Regions from separate parts of the Homo sapiens genome. Here all the other regions are linked to region 3. Evidence: fine-mapped expression QTL. A gene starts in region 3. Each other region holds a variant in brackets. All regions are shown on one strand. Distances are between the middles of the regions.

Region 1 (5,906 bases), 45 kb after region 3:
CCCAAAATTCACATGTTAAAGTCCTAACCCCTAGCACCTCAAAATGTGACTGTATTTGAAGATATTGTCTTTAAAGAGGTAGTCGGTACCCCTGATATGATGTGAGGAGAAAGACACTCTGCTGCAGTATTCCTTCTAAAATCCTAGCACCCCAATCTAATCATGAGAAAAACATCCAACAAATTCCAAATCCCAATGGAAGGGCAGTCTAAAAATACTCTGAAAGTACTCCCCAAAATTAAAACGTCATCAAAGACAAGAAAAGTCTGAAAAACTTAGCCAAGATCAGCCTAAGGAAGGATGATGACTAAATAGAGTATGGTATCCTGGATGGGATCCTAGAACAGAAAAATGATATCAGGTAAAAACTAATGCCAAATCCCCCTCTCCGAGAAACACCCAAGAATGATCAATAAATACTAAAAAAATTTAAAAAAAAAAGAAAATAAATGCAATAAATGTTCTTAATCTTAAAAAAAACTAACGAAGTGTGAATAAATCATGTACTTCAATTAAAAACTATTAAGCATACCAGAGGTAGTGGGTAATACTGAGAACAGGGGAGGCCATGAATGTGTGGGGACAGGGAGTATATGGAATATCCCATATGCTTTCCTCTCAATTTTGCTGTGAACCTAAAACTGCTCTGAATAAGTAGTCTTTAAAATGAAAAAAAAAAAAAATCCTTGTTGTTTTTGTTTGTTTGTTTGTTTTTAGCTCTGTCACCCAGGCTGGAGTGCGGTGGTGCAGTCAAAGTTCACTGCAGCCTCGACCTCCTGGGCTCAAGTGATCCTCCTGCCTCAGCCTCCCAAGTAACTGGGACCACAGCTGTGCACCGCCATGCCTGGCTTTTTTTATTTTTTTATTTTTTTTTAGAGATGGGGTTTTGCATGTTGCTCAGGCCAGTCTCAAACTTCTGGACTGAAGCAATCCTCCACCTTCAGCCTCCCATAGTACTGGGATTATGGTTGTGAGCCACGGTACCCAGCCTGAAAAAAAGTTATAATAATTCATAGACAGATGTACCGAATAGGATTTCAACAAGACTCTTTCTTCACCATTTGCAAAGACTCTCACAAACTGCTGAAGTCCAGGCTGGCTGAAAAGCAGCTTGAGGAAGCATGTTCATGCATCTGGGAACAAGGGGAGTTCACTGGAGTGCACATGCCAGAATGGAAATGAGCCCCCTGCTGTTATCTGAGGCAATTTGTAGTGGGTCTCAATGCTAAAATTAAAGTACACCCCACAAGAAGGGAGGTCACCTGAAGGCAGCCAATGGGCCACCCCTTTAGGGATATTCTCTTGATAAATTCACCTCTGCCCAGGGTCGGCTCTCAGCCTCACAAGCTCAGCAATGACTTCATCAGTGTCTTGACGTTAATCAAACTCATGGATGCTGACTCACACTAATAGAAATGAGTATGATATAGAAAAACAGGATGCCACATCATCAGGCAAACCCAACATGCTAGGCTTGCTGGAGTGGGGTCTGAGAGTCTCCATTTCTAACAAGTTCCCAGGTGATGCCAGTGCTCCTGGCCCATGGACCCCACTTTAAACAGCAAGGGTCTAGACAAGCTATATGGGAAGTCCAAGTATCAGAGTTTATTGGTGAGTGGAATATGAATTAGATCTCAAGAGAGGTTGACTATGTAACTATTTCATGCCATCGGGTTTTGGCTGCTTTACATATCCATTTCCATAATAGATATCAACCCACTACTAACACTTAGTGGTGTCAGACCCTTGCTTTAACAGCCTTGAGAATACAGCTACTCTGTGCCGAACTACACAACCTGTTCAGCCAGTCGTGTTCTGTGGTATGTTGATCAGGTTTCATCATCTGAACTGATACCTTCACATGGCCAGGAATGTAAATAAAAAACTCCCATATATTTCTGCCAGGGTAAATCAGAATATATTAAAAATGAAGCAACTACTAGAAACTCTATACCAATCAAAAGAGAGCAAGTAATGAAGGTAATGAATTTCCCTACAGTACATGAATACTTTTTTTTTGAAACAAGAGTCTTGCTCTGTTGCCCAGGCTGGAGTGCAGTGGCTGATCTCAGCTCGCTGCAACCTCCACTTCCCGGTTTCAAGTGATTCTCCTGCCACAGTCTCCTGAGTAGCTGAGATTACAGGCACCTGCCACCACGCCTGACTACTTTTAGTATTTTTAGTAGAGACAGGGTTTCATCATGTTGGCCAGGCTGGTCTCAAATTCCTGACCTCAAGTGATCTGCCTGCCTCGGCCTCTGAAAGTGCTGGGATTACAGGCGTGAGCCACTGCACCTGACTTGAATAAAGAAATTTCTAACAGATTGGTTGAGAAGAAAAGGAAATACTGCAATGATTAGGTGTCATTCATTCAGCTATTTTCACACATGCCTACTAAGGGAAACCACTATTCAGCAGGTAGCTCTCAAAGTCCTGCATGCAGAAAAATCATATGGAAAGTGTTTTGAATGCAAATTCCAGGGCCTCACTCCCTCTATTCCCACCCTCATTCTACCCCAACTACCAGGAGTCCAATTCAGCAGGCTGGGGCTTATAAATCTACATTTTTAACACGCACCCCCAACAGATTCTGAAAAATACTGACTTATATAGGATTTTAGTGGTTTTCAACCCTGGCTTACATTAGATACAGTGGAGAAGCTCAAAAAAAAAAAAAAAAAAAAAAAAAGGTCCCATGCCTGTATGCCAAAACCCCAAAACAATCAAATCAGAACATCCAGCGCATGAGACCCAGGCAACAGGCATTTTCTTAAGCTTCCCAGGCGACTTAGTGTTTCCAGGTGGTACTATTTGTGTGGGTTGTTAGACATCAGATTCCAAGGCCCCTCCCTGAAGTCTCTGATTCAGTAGGTCTGGGGCAAGGCCCTAGTCGGTGTGTCTGATAAGTGCCCCAGGTGATTCTTATGATGGGGTTTGAGAAATGTGTCTGTCTTACTCAACTGAGTCAGAAATACTGATCCCAGCAAAGCTGCTTCAAGGGATTTTTTTTTTTTTT[TG/G]AGACAACTCAAGGGATTTTTGACTCCAGTTTTGAAGCCCCTATTCCATGAATTTAGCTCCAATATGACCTGGGTCTTCCCAAAGAGACGGAACTCACCTCCCTTAATGCTGCATAGGAATGAAAGCCCACTGCTTTATACAACATGGCCTCTGTGGTCCCACTTTTATTACTAATACAACAGGACATTTCTCCCAGATTTAACACTTAGTGCTACATACCAGGCACATGGTATTACAAGCACTTCATCTATTAACTAATTTAATGTTCATAACAGTGCTATGACTAGGAACTATTCTTAGTGCTAACTCTACAGACTTTTTAAAAACGGAGGCATAGAGGCTAAGTAAATTGACTAAGTTTGCTTAGTCAAAGCCAAAGTTACCTAGAGAATGAATCTGAACCCAAACAGTAGAGGACCAAGGTCTGCTCTCTTAATCATAACACTATCATGCTGCTCACCAAGCAAAAGTTGAAGAGCCTGTCCACACATCACTTGCTGCCAGAAACACACACACACACACACACACACACACACACACACACACACAGAGAGACAGAGAGAGAAAGAATCAAGCAAGTTAGTGTTTATTACATCCCTACCATGTATACCAAGTGCTGGGCTTGGGGCTTTACGTATATTATTTCACTTAATCTGCAAGTCAGATATAATCCTATTGTCATGAACACACTATACTGCCTCACTCAGTGATGGAGAGAACCAAACTGTTTTGCATGGTGCAGAGCACCATGCAAAAAAGAAAAACAAATAAAGCAGCCGAAGAAACCTTCCAAGTTGATTTGGAGACTGAAGAAACAGCCAGTTGTGGGGGTGCGTGCTGGGGCGAGAGGAGGCCGGGCAGAGGGTGACTGCGGCTGGCTGTAAAAGGATTCTTGGAGGTGGTGGAGCTGTGGAGATCTTTGGCTCGGAGAAAAGGCAGGGCTTCCTGAGGTCTCAGTAGAGGACAGGAGTTTCATTCAGACATACTGCTTCTCAGTGCAAATCTCAACAAGTCAGGACAAGTGGCTGAGGTCCACCCACTTTAAGGAATGACAAGACATGATGCTGCCTTTAAAAAGAATCTGATGTCTCTAACTCATGCAGGGAAACACAACACAATTTCCTTGTCCTGCCTTAGGTTTCTTCCTGAGTAGTGGCACAGGGGGAGAAAGGAGCTGCAAACCCAATGCCTTACTCCAAGGAGTTTTAAGCATTTGGCCAGTGGCCTGAAAATACTGTCTTTAGGGAAAACAATGGTAAATGGCTGTTAAACATCAGCTTTTTCCTATCTACCTGCTTAGGGACATCACGTGATGCCAATCCCAAACAACCCATCTAAGAAGAGTCACACTATAGTTCAGCCTCAAGGAAATTTGCCTGAGCTCCAGGGTTCTGGAGGTCCAATGCTATTTGCCAGGCCCTGGGGCAAACACTGAGGCCTTAGCAATACTGGACTCTGTGCCCAATAGCTAAACAGAAAGAGTCTAAAAAAAAAAAACCAGGACTAGATGCACAAAAACAAATCCCAGAGAAGTGGAGAAGTAGAGAGTCTTAGTCCATTCAGGCTGCTATTACAGAATACCATAGACCGGGTAGCTTATAAACAACAAGTTTATTTCTCACAGTTCTGGAGGCTGGGAAGTCCAAGATCAAGGCAGACTCAGTGTCTGGTGAGGGCCCAATTTCTGGCTCATAGGTACTGACTTCTTATTGTGTTTGCACAAGGCAGAAGACAGAAGCAGCAAGTTTTCTGGTATCTCTTTTATAGGAATATGAATCCCATTCATGAGGACTCTGCTCCCATACTCTAATCAATTCCCAAAGGTCCCACCCTCAAATACCATCACCTTAGGGGTTAGGGTTTCAATAATAAGATTTTGAGTGTTTTGTTGTTGTTTTTTTTTTTTTTTTAGACAGCCTGTCACCCAGGCTGCAGTGCAGTGACATGATCTTGGCTCACTGCAACCTCCGCCTCCCAGGTTCAAGCGATTCTCATGCCTCAGCCTCCTGAGTAACTGGGATTACAGGCATGCACCATCATGCCTGGCTAATTTTTGTATTTTTAGTAGATATGGGGTTTTGCCATGTTGGCCTGGTTGGTCTCCAACTCCTGGCATCAAGTGATCCACCAGCCTTGGCCTCTCAAAATGCTGGGATTACAGGCATGAGCCACTGCACCTGGCTAACAATAAGATTTCTGGAAGAACATAAAAGTTCAGACGGTAGCAGGGACGTCTAGATGGGCTGGCAAAGAACCTGCAGCATCATGAGCCTTCTGGATTTTATAGCTCTGATCCTAGAACATAAGCCACTGGGTGGTGTTGTGTGGGTTATGGACAGCTTTGGGCCCAACAGCATAAAGTAGTACTGGAAGGTATACAATTCTGGAGATGAATTCCACCCTTAACCAAAGCTGAGATAGAGATGCTACGATTTCTACCAGACATGCATTCCCTTATAAGGCCAAGAGCAAGTAGGTTGGGTCAAGTGTGAGTGACAGCATCACAGTTGTGAGGAGAGCAGATAAGGAGGTGATATGCAGTCATGCCTAAAAGAGGGTCCAGTGAACAAAAGGAAACACAGGTAGTGACTTTCACTGATGGCAATAAATAATAATATTTAAAATTGTCCTACACTTCATTCTTTTTTATTGAGTTCCTGCCATGATTTATCTGCAAATCTGTAAAGCAAGCATTACCAAAAAATTAATTACCTGATTGAAATCAACGGATGAGTTTATTATTTTTCAAACCTTCCACTGTATGTTTTATCTTCCCTGGACATGTAGGGCTAAGTAGATGATGTATACCGGAAAAATCAGAACTAATGTTTCAAGTTTTTTTTTTTTACTTTCTTCATCCAAGAAATAATAGTAGACAGCATTTGTAA
Region 2 (5,906 bases), 39 kb before region 3:
CATTTTTTTTAAGAGATGAAATCTCACTCTATTGCCCAGGCTGGAGTGCAGTGATGTGATCAAGGCTTACTGGAGCCTTGACCTTCAGGGCTCAAGCAATCCTCTCACCTCAGCCTCCAGAGTAGCTGGGACTATAGGCATGCACCACTATGCCTGGCTAATTTTCTAATTTTTATTTTTGTAGATATGGGGGTCTTGCTATATTGCCCAGGCTGGTCTCAAACTCCTGAACTCAAGCAATCCTTCTGCCTTGGCCTCCCAAAGTGCCAGGATTACAGGTGTGAGCCACAGCACCTGGCCAACCTAATTCTACTCAAAGCCACGTAATTATGGCAGTCAGAAAGCAATGGATTAGAATCCTATCTCTTCTACTTTCTAGATATGTGGTTTTGGGTAAGTTACTTAAACCTTCTGGGCCTCAGTTTCCCTATCTGAAAGCAACACCCAATTTCATGAGGTCTGTTGAGAGGATTAGGTAGTATACTGGCAATGAAAACAACTGGGGGGTGGTGGTGCCTGGTGCAAAGCAGGTGTTCTGTGTTTGCTAAATGAACAACTGATTTCATCTGTTTCTTGGGATGTCGTTCAGAGGCTTACAAACACCCTAAGAATAAACAAGAGTTCATTATATTCTAATTTAAAGTGAGCAGAGTCTGAAGATTTAAAGGCAAACCAATAACCGGTGATTGAACAAACGAGGGGATATGAAAAAAAAAGAAAAAGATTTCAGATGCCTGCTACAGATCAATTGAAAGGTCTCTACTCTTTGGAAATGGTTCAACTCAGGCTATCATTGTGGAATCACAATAGTTTATATTTTCCATAACTGCAGCTAATCCATGGTCTATTTATCTTTAGGGTATTACAATTTACAAGACCATTCACTATTCAGCCTCTGTATGTGTCCATTCTCACACTGCTATGAAGAAATACCCAAGACTGGGTATTTAATTGACTCACAGGTCTGCAGACCTGGGAAGGTCTCAGAAAACTTACAATCATGGTAGAAGAGAAAGCAAACACATCTTTCTTCACATGGCCGCAGCAAGGAGTAGTGCTGAGCAAAGGGCAGGGAAGCCCCTTATAAAACCATCAGTTCTCAGGAGAACGCACTATCACGAGAACAGCATGGGGGAACCGCCCCCATGATTCAATTATCTCCACCTGGTCCCACCCTTGACACGTGGGGATTATTACAATTCAAGGTGAGATTTGGGTGGGGACACAGAGCCAAATCATATCAGCCTCCTAACTTCACATTTGGTAAATTTGATTTCTGGTACTTTGCCTATTCTATAGCTTCTTCAACACTCAAGATGGTATATGTAAATAGAACTGAGATAAATGACAGCTTTAACAGTTTGTATAAAAAGTCCAAAGGTAAGCTGCAATAAAGTGCTCCTTTAAAAAGTTAACCTCTGTATTTTCTTGCTAGACTCCCTGGTAGGGAAATACATAAAGACTCAAGATCCTAATAAATAACATAAATAGGAAAGAGGGGAAGATGATGGTAGTCATTCATACCTCAGCTTCCTGCAGGGTCCCGTGGTTTAGGCACACCATGTCAGGGCAAGTGATGGGAGACCCACATCCTTCTCGGATTGCCAGCTGCATGTACTGTTTCAGGCACTGGAAGTTAAGAAAAAAAAGACAATTGCCCATTCCATTACAGTAGCAGAAAGGTTACATAACAGAACCACCACTGTGTCTTCTTCCTTAATTGGCTGTCCTGAGGCTCTTGTACTCAAGAAACATAAGTTATCACAAGTGTGAATACTAAGAGCCATCACTTTGGAAAGAATGCAGAGACAGGCAATTAATTATGTATGACTTCATCTTAAGAGTTTATTCAAGTCAGATTTCCCTATGCTCACACATTTCAGCCACCATAGATCAGGAAAAGAAAAAACACTATTTTCTAACCCTAAAGGCCCCCTCCTTTAAAAAAAAAAATATGAGTTCCTAATTCCATTTTTACCTAGTGGTCCTCTCCATCAAAGTTTACCCAAAACTAGAACAGAACGCTGTGACCCTTGCACTGAGCTAGCCACACAATCAAAGTAAGCTTAAGGCAGTGACATTTCTAGGACCACGCTTAAAAGCAAACATACCTGGAAAAGATAATGTCAAATTTGGGAAAGTCAGGTGACTTCCTGCTGACTGGGGACAGCAAAGATAACTTGCTTCCCAAAGACAAGAGACACATTGTCCCAAAGACATTATCCCAAAGACAATGAGACCTCAAAAATATGGGCCTTGGTGGATGCCATGTTAAGGAGGTTGGAGTAGGAAAAAAGGCACTGGTCCCCTGGGGAAAGAAGAAATTAAATAGAAAAAAATAAACCCAGAGAAGAAATTGAATAGAAAAAAGAAACCCAGAGAAGAAATTGAATAGAAAAAATGAAACCCAGAGAAGACATTGAATAGAAAAAATGAAACCCAGAGAAGACATTGAATAGAAAAAAGAAACTCAGAGAAGAAATTGAATAGAAAAAGAAACCCACAGAAGAAACTGAATAGAAAAAAGAAAACCAGAGAAGAAACTGAATAGAAAAAAAGAAGCCCAGAGAAGAAACTGAAAAGAAAAAAGAAACCCAGAGAGAAGAGGGAGAACACCAGGAACAAAGTTGGTCTGCTCACTGCCTGTTGTGTCTGGATGTTGGACAGTGGGTGAAGATGTGAGTCTGACTGAAAAGTTAAGAGAGGGACTGATAGCTTTATGGAAACCTGTAATGCCTCACCCTATTCCTCTCTATGCAACTGCACAAGAAATTGAAGGCAGTAGTTCCAGGAAATAAACCTCTAAGTAATTGGTTCTTCAACTTCTACTAA[T/C]TTGCTCATAATCGGTAAACCTTTTCTACATGCATGACCAAAAAAAAGTCAAGTTCAAATGTTGAGGAGTACATTCCACCAAAAATACTTAAGCCAGCCACTGAAGCAACGACTCTTACAAAGTGGTGATTATTTACAACTGGGTTTAGATTTTTCAGATTTATACATTTATGTATCAACTTACTGCATTAAAAATATTGCTGTTGCACCAACTTTTTATAAAAGCATGAGCCAAAAGTAAAATTCTAGGGTCAGAATATTGATGATGTAATTGTGAAATCTATCCCTGTTATTGACCATCTTTACTCATTTTTTCCACCTGAAAATAAAACTAGTATCACTATTATATTACTTCAGAAAACTAATCATGTATTTATCTGGTTATAAATAACTTACAATGTACTGATGAATCAATGACTAGGGCAAACCATTTAAACCAGACTTGTATCTCTTCAAATAGTTAACAGTTTTTTTCTCCAAGGAGTTAATTTTTTCTATAATATTCATCACAGCAAAAACTAGAAAATAACCTAAATACCCAAAATAGAACACTGAAATAAATGTTGCTAAATTTATGCGATAGAATGTGCAGAATCATGAAAAGAGTCTTCAAATGATATTTAAAAGACATGCACAAATGCTCATGATTTAGTATAAATTCAGGAATAAAAGGTATCTGGGAACAGGGATCCTCTGCAGTCACTCCTCTCTTGCACTTGACCGCCATATAATTACTGTGTTTTAACCCTGACTTCCTTGTTCAACAGAAGGGTGAAAAATCACTTGCTCTAGGATTTACTGTGCCAAACATGGTATCCAGCAGCAGCAGCAGTGGGACATAGAAGAGAGCAGCAGCAAGGAAATATGGGGAAGAATGTCAATGGGCAGGCGAACACCCAGGGGAACAGTCAAGGCGGCTCACCAAAAGGAGTGTTTTGCCAGGGGACAAATGAATAAACAGTGTGAAAGCCTGTCCATCCTGTTCTGCTGCTGAGGACATCTCAGCCTTCCATCAGCCACACCTGTTCCATTGTTACTGCCTTGATCTTCCCACTGACCCCCAGCAGCCACTTAAAGAAATTTAAGTAAAAAGACTGAAAGATATAGTCTCCAGGCTCAAGGGGAAGGTGTTTGAGGAAAACAAAGTGAACAATGCAAAGAACTTCAGATCCTAACACCTGGGTGGAGGGTCCACTTTACTAGGTGACAATGGGAAAATGACTTAGCCTATGACCTAGACTTGCTTTCCTTAATTTAAAAAGTAGGGACAATAATACCTGTTATAGTTACCTCACAGGTTTTAACACACACACACACACACCCACACATACACACATACACGTGAAATTTATATATGGAAGCCCTTCATGAATTTGCAAATTACAGAATAATAGGTCATGTTATTACTCCTCTTCTCCTGGTCTTAGACTTTCCATCAAAGACTTTGTGGGAAAATGTTAATCCTTTGACCTTCTGAGATATCCTTTCTCCACTCCCTGCAAAGCACCAGTTAAACCACTTAAGGTGGAGAAGCTGTGTAGACAGAACAGATATTTGTAACAGAATATCCCAGGTGCCTCTATGCAAGGCTCTTAGAAATATTTGGGTCTACAGAATAAGTTTAGCATTAAATAGGAACTAAAGATACTAAGTGAGTCCTTATAGGCAAACACATTCATTTCAAATATAACTGCAAATGTGTTAAGTTGAAATATACACCTTCCCAAGAGCTTATAATGGATGTGCCTCTTACTAATAATGTAATGTTCCTAGGTACACTACAAACCACAATATATCAACTAAATGAATTTTGAAACTTCCTATAAGCACTCTCCTGGCCACAATATTATATGACCCACGATTTTGGGTGAGAAGTTAGACCTCTGTACACTGACTCCAGGGTTTAAGTACACATACCCTTTGTTTTTAATGCTAAGAAACACTGGTTCAAGATAGAGATTTGTAAGGGCAGGTTGCTAAGTAGTCCTACAGCACAGGCACTTGACATTCCATCAGTGTGGGCATGCATTTCTATTCAAAGGCAAAGAGGGAAAACAACCAGCCCTAGTTATTGCTTTTTACTGAATTTTCAAGTACCCCAGGCTTGTTATATGCTGCCCATTAACTTTCACTAAAACATTTAATCTCGAGTGTCCCTCTCTTCTTCTGTATCTCTGGCTAAAAAGTGCAAAATAAGTGAAAACGTTCACATGAATCCCATGTGCATGTCATACAAAACACAGGTAAATGGTTAACAATTCTAGGGGGGAAAACTGGCATCTAGCTTATAAAGAGAGAAACAAAGAAAATGAAAACAAATTATAGCAATGCAACAATGGCAAAATAAAATAATCACTATTAACAAAGAAAACTACCACCATTTAGTCACATTTTGAAAGTTACATTTATTAAGTAGCATTCAACAGATATTTAAATAAGCAATTTTCTTAACAGGTAACAAATTGTAAGGAAAATGTTTCAAATAGAACATCTCAAAACCCAAATGACCCAAGGGAAAAAAACCTTTTTCTTTTGTATAGTCAACATTTTACTTAGTTTGGTAAAACACAGAATTATTTTTAGGCCATGAAGGGTCATGCAAAATAATAAGGATTGTTCGTCAAACTCACTCCACAACCTTTAAGGATTCATATGGGATCTAACCAAAAATGTAACCAAACACCTGGTGAACCAGACGACTCATATTGTCTCTTCCAACTCTGAGAGTCTATGAATTGTATGCAATGGAATCTACTCAGAAACAGGTGTCTCCTAGACCCCTTTCAAGGGTATCAGATTCCGATGTACCAAAGTCACAGGCATTCTTCATATAAGGTGTTCTCACCTATTATGATGGACATGGCAAAAAGGGTCACAGTGTTAAGACAAAGCTACTATGTACCTACCCAAGAACAAATCACAGGAGTGGGCAGGGAATATATGTATATTTTTAAAAACGTACTATATAGTTCCTCATTCTCTATCACTAAATTATGCCCTACCTAAAGTTTTTTTTTCTAAGAAAAAATAAAGCATTATAATCTATAGCCAATGAAACTGGATTCCAGCCATGT
Region 3 (5,906 bases):
TATGATGCATTAGGTTCCAAAGTACTCACCGACTGGGTAAATAGCAAATGCCAAAGTTAATAAAACTAAAACTTTAGTCCAAGACCTCCCACATACACCTAAAGGTAAAAATTATGAATTAAAATATTTACATAAATTAACTTAGGTGTCATATACCTCTTAATGGTCAAATGGTCAAGGTAACACTACCAAGAAAATTAAGATGATCGAGGTGACAAACATCGAAGTACTTTTTATAATCTGGCAAAGCAATGTGAATTCAGAACTACCACTCTAGACCCAAGTCACTTCTGACCTTATGAGAATTTCTTCCGGACAGAGACCACATCTTAGCCATCTTTATATCCCAGCATCTAACCTAGCACCTAGCAAATCAGTCACTCAGTAGTAGAGTGGATAACTTTTCTGATTGTACTTGGAGGAGAGAAAATATTAAAGGCCTGGTTCTCATCTGTATTCACTTCCAGAAATTCACAAGCTGAAAATATTGACCATTTGTTTCAGGTAAGGAGCTTCTATAAATTAAGGTAGGCACCCCTGAAAGAAATGTTTCAGTACTTAGGAGCAATGGCTACAGATACCTATTCCCCAAAGTCCAAGTGAAAAGCATGACTTGTCTGGCAGCTTGGCCCTTTTCCCACATCCAAAATAATCAGTTGTACAAAGTAGGCTTAGTCCCAAAACTGCTCAGACTTTGTTCCTTCAGTAACATCTGGGTTCAGCATGATTCCTGACCTCTATCTCAAACTGGAGATTTCAAACACTAAAAACTTCACTCTCCAAGAAAGTAATGTCATAAAGTCAAGGCCAGGGGAAACAAAGAAGCCAGGATTAGCAGAAACACTTCGGAGAAAGGATTCTGACATACATATAAATGTTTCTAAACGTCTAAAATATTGAAATGACTTTTCAAGAAGGAAATTTTAAGTGCACCTCCTCAGATGAAAAATATTCATACTACTGAGGAGAAAGACGTTTTTCAGGAAGTTAAATGGTCATACCAGGTAGATAAAATAAGCTTTTTCTTTCCAGAGAGAGCATACTCTTCTCTCTGCTGTAGAGTTTGGCTCCAAAAACCTGGTTCATAATCTGAGACCCAAAAACTGATTATTTTAAAAAGACATGTCTTAAGCTGACCTAGTTTGGAAGCCTGAATGCCTTTAAATTGCCAATGAACTGAAACCATTCATGAGAATGGGCCTTTTGAATGCTGAGAATGTTCTTTGGGACTCAGCACAAAGATATTTGGCATAGATGACTGTAAATATTTGTAAAACTCTGGGTAAATGGGCAGGATTTGACCACACTCAAGCCCGACTTCCAGCACAGTAGTGTAGGAGAAAGTTATCTAGGGTGATTGTTTGGGGTTTTGGGGGGTTTTTTTGGTTGAGTTTTGTTTGTTTTAAATAAAAAGCCAAGCAACCCAATTCTACTACTCAACATCTTTTTCACGTTCACTATATATGTTTACCTTTTTTTAATCAAGATAATTAATTAGTCAGAGACTACTTTTGAAACTGAGGTTTTTCCCTTTCCCACTTTTCTAAGTTTATGCCCACGACAAAAATAAAAAAAAAAATGCCAGTCAAAGGTGTGCAAGGGCAGAGCAGGAGTTGTGTGAAACCATGACCTTGGATTTCATAATACAATTATCTACAAGTGGCTTTGTGGATCTGCTATAGGTTTTTCTCCCCCTCAGGATAGTTTTAGAAGTATTTAAGGCACTGCTGTCCATGAAAAGGACCCAGGTTGTGAAGGAAAGATAAACTAAGGAGAAGGAGGGACTCACAGAGGGATTTGATGTGAAAGGGACCAAGAGGCTCATTTCAGTGAAAGCTGCGGCAGACAGATACTCTAATTAGCCAGCAACTCAGTTAGGACTGGCTAGGTTCCTTTTGCCTCTTACCCACACCCTAAAAACTGAGTCATCCCAAAGTTCATTTATTTTGCTTCTGGGCACAGACACCCCCTAATCTGCTTCCTCAGAAATGTTAGATACATTGCCATTTAATTTATACCTCTCAATGTTCAAATAAACGTCCAGAAATGCCAAATCGGAAGAGCAGAGATAGTCCTGTTAAGAACCTCAGAGCTAATGTTTTGATAAGATACATGTGGCAGAAAGCAATATGAAACTGACAGTCTGTTATGAGAACATGAAAAAAGAACATTTCCCAGAGAAGGGAATTAATTTCTGGGAAATCTTTATGTGAATAGTGTATATGCATGAGGAGTAGACTTACAGCAGGATCCTTGAAACTCATGAGAAAAACAAAAGGTGTTTTAGAAAGAATAAGCAAAAGATACCTACCTTTTCCCTGCACAAACGACAATCAGTTCGATTTTAACTTAAATTTGAGAATGGCTCTCGTAGTATCAGAGTTTCACTGTTTCATTAGCAATTACCTGATAAAATAAGCACTATAATGCATAATCCGAGATTATGCCAACTTTTGGTCTCCCCTTAAGACCTAGGGAGAGGTCTGGTCTAATCTCGGATTCTACAATACATTCTATTATAGAAACTGTTTTATTAGAAATGAAACTACTTTCCTTTAACAAAGGCATTTTTCTTCTAAGTTAACAGGTGTTTAAGGCATTCAGAATGAATTCAGTTCTGTATGGTTTGAGCACTAGAGACAGAAAATCGAAAAATTGTGGTGTCACAGTGAGTTTCCTGTCCTTTTTCCTTAGTCCAGCAACACCATTCCGGTCTTGCAACGCCTGTAGCCTTTAAAAAGCTCGCTAAACCTACCTGGCAGCAGACCTGCGTTCCTCCGTCGCCGGGCTTCTCAGTAGCCTCCCTCGCGCTCACCGCCAGTCCGGGCTGCTGGCACACCGGACAGGAGCTCTTCCATTCTCTCCGTCTTTCCTCCGTGCTCTGCGGCTGACAGCTTTACACTTTGCAAGACTGCAACAGGACTTGCGCTCCCAGACCTACGGGTCGGGAGGAGGCGGAGTCCCCGACCGCCTCCTAGCCTTGACTGGCAGCTGCGATGCCCGGGACTGTTGCAGCGGGAGCGTGGGGCACAGCTCGCCAGCAGCGGTAGCAGCGCGTTTATTTATACAGGAAGCTCAGGCGCCGCACTTCCTACTTCCCATGTGGGTCGTACTTCAGCTGCAGGTGTTGGCCTTAACCCTATCCGAACCCGGGCGCGCTGCACCGACTCTACTGCTTGTCAGGACCTGTCTCTTGTTCTCCTGGGACCGCTGTTGCAGGAATTCAGAGCAGGGGGTGCAGGCAGCTGCCCCTAGCGCACTTCTTCTGCCCAGACAGGGACAGCTCACCTCTTGGCCTTAAGCGCCTGCTACCTCTCTGTCTGTACATATCCTCACAGGCCACCTTTCTTTATTTTCTCCCTCCTTCCCAGCTCTTTAAATCTCTTTCTTCTACTTCTAACAGCCCAGACCTGCCTTCCCACGTGGCAGACAACTGTTTTATAGAAACACTTCCCATGCACATCTCATCAAAAAACAGCTTGTACCTCACTTGTCCTTTTGCATCTAATGATGAAATTAGAATACCTGTGAATCAAATCGGGAATAATCTTAGTTTACCTCATAAAATACAGACACTTCTTGATGAAACAATGATTTCACTTGAAGTGCTTTGTAACTTAACTGGTTGTACCCTCAATTAAACAAAAATGTAACAAAATAATCCAGAAGCTGTGAGGTATTATGAAGTGCTTCCTTGCTCCAAACCCTTGGACACTTCATTTGTGTGACATTCATAATGAATCGCATACCTACTCATTCCCCATATCCCCCATAGATCACAATCACCTAAGTCTGCTGAACATTGCCATTTAGGAATGTCGCTCTGACACAAGAATCTGTGTTCACTCTGCAATCCCTCTCTACTTTTGCAACCACTGTCAGGAATGTGCTTCCTAAAAGGAAGGGACTCACAGGCCCTTTGTGGAAAGGATCTGTGCACGCCAACAGGCACCATTCCAAACGACACAAGCAAACATTGCTTCTCAGCCCTCCAAGTTGAAGAAAACCTCTAGGTCAAAGCAAAGTGCTGAATAACACAGTGTATCTACATGTGCCATGCTAGGGCAGGTAGGAGGACCAGCTCACCAGTCAGGGAGGAAGAGAAAAAGGACAGGGGCAATAAGATGATAAAAGAACCCACGGTAGGATATTTGAGCTTGAAAAGTCTTCCTAGCTATTTTAGCAAATAACCTGATTTTAAAAATAAGGAAACTGGGCTGGGTGCGGTGGCTCACATCTGTAATCCCAACACTTTGAGAGGCCAAGGCGGGCAGATCATCTGGGGTCAGGAGTTCAAGACCAGCCTGGCCAACATGGTGAAACCCCGTCTCTACTAAAAATACAAAAAATTAGCTGGGCGTGGTGGTGGGTGCCTATAATCTCAGCTACTCGAGAGGCTGAGGCAGGTGAATCGCTTGAACCTGGGAGGCAGAGGCTGCAGTGAGCCGAGATTGCGCCATTGCACTCCAGCCTGGGTAACAAGAGCGAAACTCTGTCTCAAAAAAAAAAAAAAAATAAGGAAACTGATGTCCAGGAAGATTTAAGAGATTGGCCCAAACCAGACACAGGCCAAGCTAGAATGAGACCTAAATCTGAGTTACATGAGGAAGGTGAATGTAAATGAAAACCATCCCAAAGGAAGTCCAACCTTCAGATTTAGCAATGGCTTAGGTTCTGAGATAATCTATTTCAAGGAATTTTCTTGGTATAGTGACCATTTTGGTGGACAGGAACTAGGAAAGATAAAAAGCAACCTCTAAGAGGTTAGTTTATTCATTGGTGTTGATGCAAATCTCCTGAGCCTTAAACCAAAGTTCAACACAGAGTCCACTTTTCAAATTACCATTCATAAATTATAATCTCTTGTTAACAGGATAAGGGAAGAAGCTGCTGCCAATATGAATGAGAACATAAGCACGAATAGTGCTGCCTATTATCCCAAATATTTTGCACAACTGAGTAACATCACCACTGATTATTTTCAACCATGCAACTATGCAAATTTTTTTTAAATTGCAGTCAAAATTTAATAAGACTAAATAAACACGTTGAATGCTATAATATTATGTGAACAAACTCTCTCAGATCTTCCTAAGGAGTCTACAGTGTGAATGGATATTCATTCTCTGGAGCATTTATTGATTTCCTCCCAGACAATCTGCTAGGTTGTATTAAGATAATGATATTAGACATGGTCTCCCTGTCCTCAAAGACCTCTCAATCCAGGGAAGGAGTAAGACAAGCAAATCAATTATCAGGGTACTGATAGTTGTACCCAATGTGTGAGTGATACATAATGTGTGATATGATAGACTTAAGCATGATGTGCTATTGGGAGCACAGAGAAGAAGAATTTAAAGGAAAGGAGTTGATGAAAAGAATCAAGTCTTCTCTGAGAAGGTGATTATATTAATCTGTTCTCACATTGCTATAAAGAAATAACTGAAACTGGGTAATTTATAAAGAAAAGAAGTTCAATTGGCTCATGGTTCTGCAGCTGCACAGGAAGCATGGCTGGGGAGCCCTCAGGGAGGTTACAATCATGGTAGAAGGTGAAGGGGAAGCAGGCACGCATGTCTTACGTGACTGGAACAGAAGCAAGGCGGGGTGGGGCAGGGAAATGCCACACATGTTTAAACAACTAGGTCTCTCAAGAACTTATTGTCACAAAAAACAGCACCAGGAGATAGTGCTAAACCATTTATGAGAACTCTGTCCCTATGGTCCAATTACCTCCCACCAGGCCCCACCTCCAACATCGGGGATTACAATTCGACCACGAGATTTGGCTGGGGACACAGATCCAAACCATATCAGTGATTTAAATCTATGTCTTCAAGTAGCCCAATAGGTGTGGTAGAGAAGGGTAAACCAGGCTGAGCAAACAGCTAAAACAAAGGGTTAGA
Region 4 (5,906 bases), 84 kb before region 3:
GCATATATACTATCCTATATGCTATCAATATATATACCTTAAATTTAACTCAATTTGCAGAAAATACAATGTATACTGAAAAAAATTAATAACAAGCCCCTTAGACTAACACACTCATAATAATCCATGGTGTGCTTCAAATAAGGAGAGTGAGGTCCTGATATTTTTTGTATAGGTACTAGAAGAAACATGTCCCTGGAAATTCCCCAAGCAACTTTGATTATAGGTCTTTTTAGCCACCAAGAGCTGTAGATAAACCATGAGGTTCAACCACTACTCTTTGAATTTGCTCATTTTAAGTAAATTGGCAATATATTTCATATGCTTCTGGCATTATCCATAACAGCATCTGGAAGCTGCTTCTGAGGATTACTTTGTCTAAGAAGGAGAATTTCCCTTGAGCTAACTAGTTTCATGCATATAGAGCTCACAGAGGGGGCTGGAGGTTTTTTCCATCTTAGTCAAAATGTTAGGTTTGTACTGAACCTAGAAAACAGTTACTTCCTAATTTTCTAGATGAGGCAACCGAAGCCAAGAGAAATTGTAACTTGTCCACAAGAGACTAGGAGAGCTATCAAACTTCCCTCCAGTCTTTCATTTCTAGTCAAAAGCATGGCTATGCTAGTTTAAAACATCTACAGCATCTGGCCGGGTCTGTATTGCTGCACTGGGGGTGGGAGAGGGGAAGAGGCAATGACCTTGACTTTTGTTGCACGTCCCTCAACAACAGGCAGTGACTGGTTAACTCAGATCCATCTGCTTTACTGGTCTGACTTGAATGGAAACACCATCCTGTACTTTAAGCCAGCTCTTAAAAGAGTTGTCCTTCCTGAATCCAAAACAAGATTCAATCCAATCCTGAATCTTCTGAAGGTTTGTTTAGAAAGCTCAGATCAGGTTTTCTTCTGAGTCCATTTAAGAAAATCTGTCCCACATATAGACCAAATGGACCTCCCAAGGACACTAGCCAGAAGCAGAATTGCTGATCTCCTTGGCTATACTAGACCCAATTCCAACGGTAAGTCAACAGTTCCCAGGTAGAAGTTAGATTTTGCTAACTCTTCCCCAAGTTTGTGATGTCTTCAAGCAGATTCTATTACCTGTGAAAACTCTTTGCCTTCATGGGGCTGGGAAACAGAACAGATTTTAAAAAGCTAAATTTCCTTTTGAAAATGACAAATATACATACTCTCGTAGCCATTAAAATGTAAAATGGAAGCCAGAGATGTGTCAGAAGAGGAAGCCAAAGAGGTCTGAAGTATGAGAAAGACTCAATGAGCTGTTGCAAGCTTGAAGATGGAGGGGGCCACGTGGAAGGTGTGAGAAGGAACTGAATTCTGACAACACCCAGAGAGCCTGGAATAGGACTCTGAGCCTCCCTCCAGAGGAGAACACAGCCCCATCCAACACTTTGATTTTTTTTTTTTTTTTTTGAGACAGAGTCTCACTTTGTGGCCAGGCTGGAGTGCAGTGGCACAATCTCAGCTCACTGCAACCTCCACCTCCTGGGTTCAAGCGATTCTCCTGCCTCAGCCTCTTGAGTAGTTGGACTGCAGGTGCCCACCACCACGCCCGGCTAATTTTTGTATTTTTAGTAGAGACAGGGTTTCACCATGTTGGCCAGTATGGTCTCAATCTCTTGACCTCGTGATCCGCTAACCTCGGCCTCCCAAAGTGCTGGGATTACAGGCATGAGCCCCCACACCTGGCCAACACCTTGATTTTTAGCCCAGTGAAACTTCGAGCAGAGAACCCAGCAACATCACGTCAGACCTCTGATCTACAGAAACTGAAGTAATAAATGTGTTGTTTTTAGATGCTTTTAAAAATTAAAATAATGCAAACAGGTCCCGAGTTAGTTCATGCAAGATGTGGGTTCAAGTTCTAGCTTTGCCACTCACCTGCTGTACGACCTGCACCATGTCTTCTAACCCCTGAGTCTCATCTCCCATCTGTACATTGGGGGTGGGGGGGTGTGAAGAGTAATATCTACTTTCTAGAGTAGTATGAAGAGCAAAAGGAAACTGCATACTATAAGGCATTATTTAAACACTAAGTTCTTACCATAAACCTTCCCCCCAAAATCAATGTGTTGATATAAATTCTGCATTTCTTTCCACATATTCCCCTCATTTTAATGAAGCATATACTTAGATTTAACTATTTTGTGAAATATTTGTTAAACAATGACATAGGATTTTTTTTTTAAACCTAAAAAGAAAATACATTTACGGAGGGGGTCATACTTCTCTCAACACAGACAAGCTTGAAATGTATTTCAGGACTACCCTCCTCCTGCCCCAAGTTTGCCCCCTCTTCTCCTCTCAGAACAATGCCTGGCTAAAAACTGATTGACTCGGCCAGGCGCAGTGGCTCATGCCTGTAATATTTCAGCATTTTGGGAGGCCGAGGCAGATGAATCACTTGGGGCCAGCAGTTCAAGACCAGCCTGGCCAACATGGTGAAACTCTGTCTCTACTAAAAATACAAAAATTAGCTGGGCGTGGTGGCACACGCCTGTAGTCCCAGCTACTCAGGATGACGATGCAGGAGAATTGCTTGAACCCAGGAGGCGGAGTTTGCAGTGAGCAGAGATAGCACCACTGCACTCCCGCCTGGGCAACAGAGCGAGACTGTCTCAAAACAAACAAACAAAAAACTGATCAACTACACTTAACAGCTGCAAGCACACCTAACTCAGTGGCTCGCTCTCCTCACACCTCCCTAACAACCAACACTTAGAAGCACTTTGACATTCGGGATTTTACTCGATCCACCTAAGCCTGACCTGAGAT[A/C]GGGATGAAATGACGCTATACAATAAAGGGCTGGCCCCAGACCATACCACCAGTCAAGAGCACAGCCAGGCCTAGAACTGAAGCCATCTTATTGCCAGCTGGGCGTCTGCCTCCAACCCCACACCACCTGGATTGGCAGAGGGCCGGGAGGACAGAGGACGCTGCACACTTGTTCTGTGGCCAGGGTGGCACCACGTTTGCCAGCCCTCTCCCAGCACCCTGTTCACATGCCCTTGTGGTGCCAAAGTCCCAGGGCCAGGCTGGAATTCAGGACACACCACACAGGGTGGTATGTGGATTTCTGAACTTGTTTTAAAATGAATTGGCTTGTCTTCAAAACATAAGTCGAGGCTGATCAATAATCAGAAGTCCCATAACTTACCTCAAAAATACCTTCATGTTCATTTTATCTGAATGTGTTCAGTACTATTGATGTTAACCACCCCTCCACTCCCCACAAAAGGAAATATATCTTCTTGAATCATGTCAGGTCCTTAAGGAACTACAAGATAAAACGACCAACACTCAACTTAATTTCCTTCTCATCGAAAGCCCGAATTCCTGATTTAACAGCTAAAAAAAAGCAAAACTGAGGGCAAATATAGCACTGATAAAAATCGAAAATCATAAAGGCAGAAAATGGAATTGAAAGGACTTCTTTATGTATGAGAAATTAAGTTCATTACTTGGAGTCCCCTTTCTAGCTTTGGAAACTGCCAATTGATTTAATGGTAGGCTACAAATACACATTTGAGTACAAGTTGGCAGTGTTAATAAGAAAGGAGTTAGATCTGAGTCAACAGTCCCTTTGAATCTTGATTGTAAATATCAAAAGGAACTTGTGAGAATGTACTTTGTAGGGGAGAGGCAAGCACTTGGGCATTTGGGGTAAGTATATAGATTCAGCTATAATTCTGCTTCCAATACTAGCAAGTCAGATGCAGACCGCCTTGTTATTTTTCTAGTTACCTTCCATCAACTGTCCTTCTCTAGCCAAACTTCAAGGAGTGAGGTGAGGGGATCTCAGGGGTACCCACCAAAACACAGCCTCTAAGTGATGATTTGAAATATGTTCTTACATACATCTCCACTGATGCAGATAAATGAGAGGGTACTATGTTCTCTTAGGACTCACAGATTTGGGAGTGAAAGACTCGAAATTACTAATGAAAGAGCATTATAGAACTTTCAAGTCGTAGTGCATTCTTTTCCTGGCTGTCACTCATCAGTATGAACCTAAGCAAGACATGAATACAAAACATTGCTTTCTTCATAAAATGGATCTAATCTGCTCCATTTATCTCAAAGGATTGTTCTCAAAAGTTCTTTAGTTTACGTAAAAATATACAAATAAAACATTATAATTGCTATTAACGCATTTAAGCAGATTCGTTTCCTTTTTCTCATAGTGTTGGGCATTATCTTTAGGGTCTAAAGAAAACTAGATTTATTATCTAACAAATGAAAATAATTGAATTACAGAAAAACCTAATTATTATTCTCCTCCAAATCATCAGATTCATAACTTAAATTGCAATGAGTTTGCTGGTTAGGGCACTGATTAAAATCACTGCTATATAAAATGGTTCATTCAATATTTCTTTGGGAATGCAAATTCAAGGTTAGCAAACAATAAGCACACTTTCAAAATGAAATAATGTTGACATTCTAGGAGATGATTAAGAAAATTAAGAAACCATAACCCAAAAGTATTTTTAAATGATCTTATTGATTTCCTCAAAACTGAATGATTAGAAAATGAAATTTGAATTGTACATCAGTTGTAAACCTTTGTATGCAGGTACCATTTTAGAAGCATCCAGCCTTCAATAAAAAGGTTTCAACACCAGTACAGGAGAGTGAGCTTTCGGTTTTATGGAAACACAAGCTCTAGTTGTTAAGTAATCTTTGGCACCCAACTTAAGACCTGCCTCGAATACTAATTCAAATGGAAATGACCTTAACACTCTTAAATCCTTTCTTAAAAAATCATAACAAGGAAACACATGCCTCTAGCAGACTTTTGGAAGGTTAGAACTGACCTTAGCGTTTAGTCCAACCTTTATTGTACAGAACAAATGGCTTTGACACTTGGCAGCATTTTTTATTAGAATGATCAAAGATCTGTATTATTGGTTATTGCTCTGGATAATGATGAGTTCCTATGCACTGGCAGTGTGGACTATCACACCTACAAAGAAGAAAGTGTGTAACAAAGGCATTACACTTGCCACCCCCCCACCCCCTTTTTTTTTTTTTTGAGACCGAGTTTCGCTCTTGCTGCCCAGGCTGGAGTGCAATGGCACAATCTTGGCTCACCGCAACCTCCACCTCCAGGTTCAAGCAATTCTCCTGCCTCAGCGTCCCAAGTAGCTGGGACTACAGGCATGTGCCATCATGTCCAGCTAATTTTTTTTTTTTGTATTTTTAGTAGAGACAGGGTTCTAATTTTTTGTGTTTTTAGTAGAGACGGGGTTTCACCATGTTGGCCAGGCTGGTCTCGAACTCCCGACTTCAGGTGATCCGCCCACCTTGGCCTCCCAAAGTGCTGGGATTATAGGCGTGAGCTACCACACCTGACCCCCTGACCCTATTTCTTTTAAGAAGTAAAGTAGCCAAGAGTTATTTCCATAGATGGTATTGCAAATTCTGGTACATTTTGTAAATTCAGAACCTAGGATTTAACAGTAACTTGGTTGGTTCTCAAAGGATAAAACTGAACATGCCTAGAATTGTGCAGCGCAACAAAGGTTAACACACTTGATTTCCTGCTTACATTTATTGTGGCTAGAGAGCCTAAACAGCTATTTTCTTCTCCAAAAATTGGAAAAATATAACACGATAGCAATTTTTTAAATACATAAAACTTCCTGGATCATGAATCAACATGAGACATAATAGCCTGTAGATATCAATTGTGATCGCTTTATAAAATGTCATTCATCTAATGCATTTCTGAAATTGCCCTTAAAGCTACACATACACACATGACTCTATATCACATAAAGGCATCCATTCATGAACAGAAAGAAAAGTCTTTTATTAGTACTGTGTAGGGAAGGCTAAAGAAATATACATTTAATTCAGAATAATTTTTAAGAAAAAACGTGG
Region 5 (5,906 bases), 25 kb before region 3:
CGTGAGGACACAGAATTTCTCCCCTCCAGAGGAAGCAACAGTAAGACGCCATCTTGGAAGCAGAGAGCCGCCATCACGGGACACCAATCCTGCCAGCACGTTGATATTGGACTTTCCAGCCTTCAGAACTATGAGTAGTGGATTTCTGTTGTTGATAAATTACCTAGTCTCGCGTATTTTGTTATATCAACACAAAAGGACTTAGGCACAATCTAAGAGATAGTTGGTATACGGTCAGCCCCCCGTCCTCAGATTTCACATCCATGGATTCAACCAACCACGGACAGAAAATATATTTTTAAAATCACAATAAGAAATACACAAAAAATACAGTAGAAAACCCATTTATATAGATTTACATTGTATTAGATATTATAAGTTACCTAAAGATGATTTAAAGTATATGGGAGGATGTACATAGGTTACATGCAAATACTACACCATTCTATATAAGGGACTTGAGCATTCATGAATTTGGGTATCTTTGGGGTGGGGAGTGGGAAGGGGCTTGGAACCAATATCCTGAAGATACCAAGGGATAACTCTACAGGTATTTGTTGTAAAAATCTTTATCTTGTTTCATAACAAACTGTTGTACAATTTTTTCCATCTTTTTAAAAGTTTTTGTTCTTTTTCACCTTCAAGAATAGAAACAGGATGTTGTACAATATTTTAAAACTAAAAGCAAAAGATAAAATTTATACCATTCATCAAATCTCAGATTTTAATACTGCTTAAAAGCAGAAATCCTATATTTTAAATAAAATCTGTCTCAGTATTTAAACCAGTTTGAATAAATTATAATGAAATAATATCTTAATTAAAACTAATCATATATATACCTACTACGTATCTATACAAATTAAAACATTTTTAAATAAAACTAGTGGTAGCAATATTAATAACTATCTGAATTTTTGAAATTTTAAAAGAATATTAACACTGTATAAGTGACAGAATAAAGCTAACTCATCACCAACATTTTTTCCTACAGGATATAACCTACAAAGCCAGCATGCAAAATAGCTCATATTAATGACCCAAAAGTTGGGAAAGAGTGACGCTTAACAGTTTCCTCAAGAAGATATTATTTCTATACATGGAATGATAGGAACAAGGGACATCAGTTAAGAATAGACCTAACCCTTAAACTTCCTCTTGAGCTACATTACAAAAGAGAATCTCTTAGATTTAAGAGAACTGAACTCTGAAAAAGTAGAAAAGGTTGGACAATGACTAGGTTGGTTATTAGAAATCTCATTTTATTCAAAATTATTTTGAAATAATGATATTCAATGACTCCACAGCAAAATCAGCATCTTTCTAATTATAAGTTACATTGCATCAAGACCACGACTATTCCTCACCTCACAATATTCCCCCGAGGATTTATCCTGCAAAACCTGGAATTTTTTTTAACATTTTCTAAAAAGCAAGTTTTTAGAAGTCAAGGGGCTTCATATTGAGTGGGCTTTTTTCATATTAATTGACATAATTTGAACCAGTCTTCCTTTTCTGAAGGTTATCAATACCATAAACCGTAAGATAAAGTTTTTCAAAGGCTAGACATCATTCCATATTAAAACAATCTTTAATTAACACATTACCTAGGGAAAGCAGATGTTAAGCTATAATATTTTTTTCCATTTGCAGAAAAGGTCTCTGTGCTCTGCAGTAACCCATGCATTAAACACCCTCAACACAGAAGAATCACTTGGAAACAACCGTCAGACTGAGGTCCTCTTAAGAACACCAGTAACTTCCACAGACACAATGCGCCTGGAGGGTGGGAGAACATCAGTCATTGAGGCAGAATGCCTGGCCTTGAACCTTGACTTCAGTTTCAACATCTGAAAATATGCTAAATGCACTGGGAACTTCCAGTTGTGTAAATCAGACCTCTGAATGTCTCGGCCTTGGTTTCCTCAAATAACTTACCCGAAATCACACAGTGGAAAGTTCACAGAACACTCATGTTCATGCTCAATCTCTAATATGAGGCCATGGCCACCACTATATTCTGATTACATACTTTCTGTTCTCTGAAAAACTCCTTGGATTTTTTAAACCAGTAGTTCTTTACATTTGTTTTGTACTGACTAAACTTTTACGTATATAAAATCAGTAGCCAGTTGTCAATTTTGCATTTTATAGGCTATTGTCAAGCTTTAGACATTTCAGGTTAAGATCACAAAAGCCAAATATGGGCCTTCATCCATTTTCATGCTAACAAAAAAAATTTAGGAACCACATACTATGTGCTAGGCCATACATTATATATTTTCACAGAGCTTGTTTTTATTTCTTCCAAACGACACTATGATGTAGGGATTAACATTACAGATCCTGGGCAAGTTATTTAACTCTGAATTGGTTTATCTGTAAACTGGAAGAGTAAATGGGGGAAAAAATAGTACCCTTGCATATTACATATTATATGAAAGGTACTCAAATGCCCTTGCTTTTCCTTCCGTAATTTTTTTAAACAGATGAATAAAATGAGGTTTAAGCAGATTGAAAAAATACCCTACATTCATGTAGTAAATACCTCACACATATTTTCCAGAAGAGTCAAACCAAAAAGACCTCCTTACTGTGGGTGGGAAATGATTCAAAACCATGGAGGCTTTCAGTTAACACAGAGCCATGTATTTCCATGGAAATGAGGCACTGTGTCTCACCTGATTCCAAGGGGTACACTGCATATCTGGAATCCACATAGATAAGCCTTATATAACCAATCTTTAATGAACTGAAATATACAGAAAATGGGATTTTAAAAAACTGAATTTTCTAGTTAACTCACCACCCTTTTTCAACTTGCCTAAATTTTTTAAACCTCCTTTACCTACTTAGTAACATTTTGTCACTGGACATGAATTTTTTTGTGTGATAAGGCATCTCCCTCAGTCTGAACACCACCATTTTTTCATTCATTCATGTCTTCTATGTGTAATATACTTTTCTAGATATGGCCCATTTTTTTCTAACTTGATTACTATTAATACCAAGGTATAAAATCAGTTGAAACTATACTGGCACTGAGCATACTGTATGTTTTTTAAAGATAGATTCATGAGATGAGCTTCTCTTACAACAA[T/C]TTGCTTCCTCCTAAAAAGAGGAAGTATGGATTAAACCATGAGATATGTTCTTTTCACATACCAGATTACAGAAGGTGAAAAGTTGGAAAATACCCGGAGTGTCAAAAGAGAGGCCTCTGTTCCTACTCTGTTGGTGGAGTTGCCAAGCTGGTGCAACAGTTTGGAACAGTAATTTGGTAACACATACTGATTTAAAATGTACATCTATTTTGGTTAGGCAATTCTATTTCTAAAAAGTTATCCTAAGGACAGGTATTTTCACATTTATATAAGTAAAAAAAATGTATTCATAATAGCAAAAACTAGAAACAACCTTAAAATCCATTATTTAGGAGGGGCCCAGTTAAATAAATTTTCATACAACCATATCATAGAACACTATACAATACTTAAAAAGGAAGGTTGGTCTGTATATTTTTGCACAGAAACTTGTCCACAATGTACTATGTTTGTAAAACTCAAGTTAAAAGTATCTGTAGTTAAAGATCCCATTTCTCTATTAAGTGATGTGCGTAAGTACACAGGGAAAGAGTCTAGAAGAAAGTACAGGTGGGCTGGGCGTGGTGGCTCACGCCTGTAATCCCAGCACTTTGGGAGGCTGAGGTGGACAGATCACCTGAGGTCAGGAGCTCGAGACCAGCCTGGCCAACCCCCTCTGTACTAAAAATACAAAAATTAGTTGGGTGCGGTGGCGCATGTTTGTAATCCCAGCTACTTGGGAGGCTGAGGCAGAAGAATCACTTGAACCCAGGAGGCAGAGATTGCAATGAGCCGAGATCACACCACTGTACTCCACCCTGAGCGACAGGGCACAACTCCGTCTCAAAAAAAAAAAAAAAAAAAAAAAATATATATATATATATATATATATATATATATATATGAATCATGCACATGCTTTTTGAGGTTTTTTGGTTTATTTTTAAATTAGCATGTGTTACATTTATAATTAAAAATTATCTTCAATGTAATAAACCAAGAGAGCCCTGAAACATGATTATTTTGTACTTTAGGGTCCTATTTCTTCTATGAGTACTAGCCATGATTTTTAAAAATGTACTTTCACTGGGCACGGTGGCTTATTCCTGTAATCCCAGCACTTTGGGAGGCCGAGGCAGGCAGATCATAAGATCAGGAGATCGAGACCATCCTGGCTAACATGGTGAAATCCCGTCTCTACTAAAAATACAAAAATTCCCTGGGAGTGGTGGCACGTGCCTGTAGTCCCAGCTACTCAGGAGGCTGAGGTAGGAGAACTGCTTGAACCCGGGAGGCGGAGGTTGCAGTGAGCAGAGATCACGCCACTGCACTCCAGCCTGGCAACAGAATGAGACTCCGTCTCAAAAAAAAAGAAAAGAAAAGAAGAAAAAAAAAGAAAAGAAAGCTGACAGTATCCCAAATGGATAGGAAAAAAGAGAAATTGGGGCACAAAAATAATTTAAATACTCCAGGCATCAAAACTGCAGTCTGCCATACACATGTATCCTAAGTTGATAAGGACATTGTTCTCCGAGCTCTGCTTCAGCCTGCCATGGTTCCCTCCTCCTGCTCCAGCCTTGCCCACTTTCAGTCCATTCTCTATCCTGTACCGACGCCATCCTCCCTATCTCATTCCCAAACAAAGCCTTCCAGTGGCTCCATAATGTTTTTTTAACACAGCATACCAGGCCCTCCATCTAGTCTCTGCTTGCCTCTCTGGCCTCCTGCCTGAGCACACCCACACTTCCAACAATGTGTCCCAGGAACATCTTCCGGTTTGGTTCCTCAGCAGGTCACTCTTCCCTGATTCTGTGTTCTCACATGTGGCTGGCCTCTTTTCCCTGGAGCACTGTTCTCACCCACAGCCCCATCAACAATGCCATCAAGCAATCCCTATTATCTTTCAGTCTCAGCCCTTAGGAAACCTCCTACCTCCCTGAGTCTATTTTAGGTGGGTTTCTGTATGCTTTATAACATATTGTACTTCCTTTATCAGAGGGTCTACTGCCCACATAACAGCAGGGCTGGTTGTGTCTGATGACTGCCACTTGCTCCACAATTAACACCATGCCTGGCACACACTAGTACCAAATGGATCAGTAGAGTCTGGACAAAGGTGGGAATAGACTTAGAGAATATTGGAATAAGGGTGCAACTTCAAAAGAAGAAATACATAAACTTTGGTGACTTAGTGGCAACAATGGAAAAGTTCTCTCATCAGAAACCAACTTTTGCCTGCTCTCTGGTCATGATTTGCATGTTTGGCCAGCCTATTACATTCTGATATGTGGTTTGAAGAATTAAACTTTGGCAAAGGCATGCTTAAGGGGGGAAAAGTCTACACAACATACAAGCACAGATCACCAAACTATCTTTTCACAACTTCCTTTGTAAAAAGAAATAAAATTCTGTTCCACATTATAACATCACCCCTTACCCGAATACCAAGCCTAAAGTACTTGTTACGCCTATGATCGAAGTAAAAAATGTTATGTAGGCCGGGGCGCAGTGGCTCACGCCTGTAATCCTAACAGTTTGGGAAGACAAGGCGGGCAGGTCACTTGAGGTCAGGACATCGAGACCAGCTTGGCCAACAAGGTGAAATCCCATCTCTACTAAAAATACAAAAATTAGCCAGCATGATGGCACCTGCCTGTAATCCCAGCTACTCAGGAGGCTGAGGCAGGAGAACTGCGTGAACCCAGGAGGCGGAGGTTGCAATGAGTCAAGATCGTGCCATTGCACTCCAGCCTGGGGGACAAGAGCAAAACTCCATCTCAAAAAGTAAAAAAAAAAAAAAAAAAAGGTTATGCAAGTGAAGTTTGT

Direction of the effects. Positions count from the first base shown, and alleles are read on the strand shown. Sizes are in standard deviations (SD) of each study's normalised expression. Not every link is listed here.
As copies of G replace TG in region 1, the expression in skin of the gene that starts at base 3,036 in region 3 goes down (moderate effect, 0.54 SD a copy in TwinsUK).

Evidence for each region.
Region 1: its variant is fine-mapped to the expression of RNF144B in skin (TwinsUK, PIP 0.95).
Region 2: its variant is fine-mapped to the expression of RNF144B in whole blood (TOPMed, PIP above 0.99).
Region 4: its variant is fine-mapped to the expression of RNF144B in whole blood (TOPMed, PIP above 0.99). The same link has a PIP of 0.9 or more in esophagus mucosa, lung and sun-exposed skin.
Region 5: its variant is fine-mapped to the expression of RNF144B in whole blood (TOPMed, PIP above 0.99).

Annotation. Positions count from the first base shown.
Region 1 is chr6:18,339,400-18,345,305 of GRCh38, reverse strand. No RefSeq gene overlaps it. Among named protein-coding and RNA genes, the nearest start is that of RNF144B, 45 kb to the left of the region's middle. The variant TG/G (reference allele first, on the strand shown) is at 3,017.
Region 2 is chr6:18,423,304-18,429,209 of GRCh38, reverse strand. RNF144B (ring finger protein 144B) reads right to left here. Exons shown (of 8, transcript NM_182757.4): 3 at 1,525-1,629. It overlaps LOC124901271 (a long non-coding RNA gene), which reads right to left. Exons shown (of 2, transcript XR_007059487.1): 2 at 5,218-5,677. Among named protein-coding and RNA genes, the nearest start is that of RNF144B, 39 kb to the right of the region's middle. The variant T/C (reference allele first, on the strand shown) is at 2,833.
Region 3 is chr6:18,384,480-18,390,385 of GRCh38, reverse strand. RNF144B (ring finger protein 144B) reads right to left here and starts at 3,036. Exons shown (of 8, transcript NM_182757.4): 1 at 2,756-3,036.
Region 4 is chr6:18,468,524-18,474,429 of GRCh38, reverse strand. It overlaps RNF144B (ring finger protein 144B), which reads right to left. Exons shown (of 8, transcript NM_182757.4): 8 at 5,560-5,906. Among named protein-coding and RNA genes, the nearest start is that of MIR548A1HG, 51 kb to the left of the region's middle. The variant A/C (reference allele first, on the strand shown) is at 2,796.
Region 5 is chr6:18,409,541-18,415,446 of GRCh38, reverse strand. All of the region lies in intron 2 of RNF144B (ring finger protein 144B), which reads right to left. Among named protein-coding and RNA genes, the nearest start is that of RNF144B, 25 kb to the right of the region's middle. RefSeq lists an enhancer at 1-815. The variant T/C (reference allele first, on the strand shown) is at 3,101.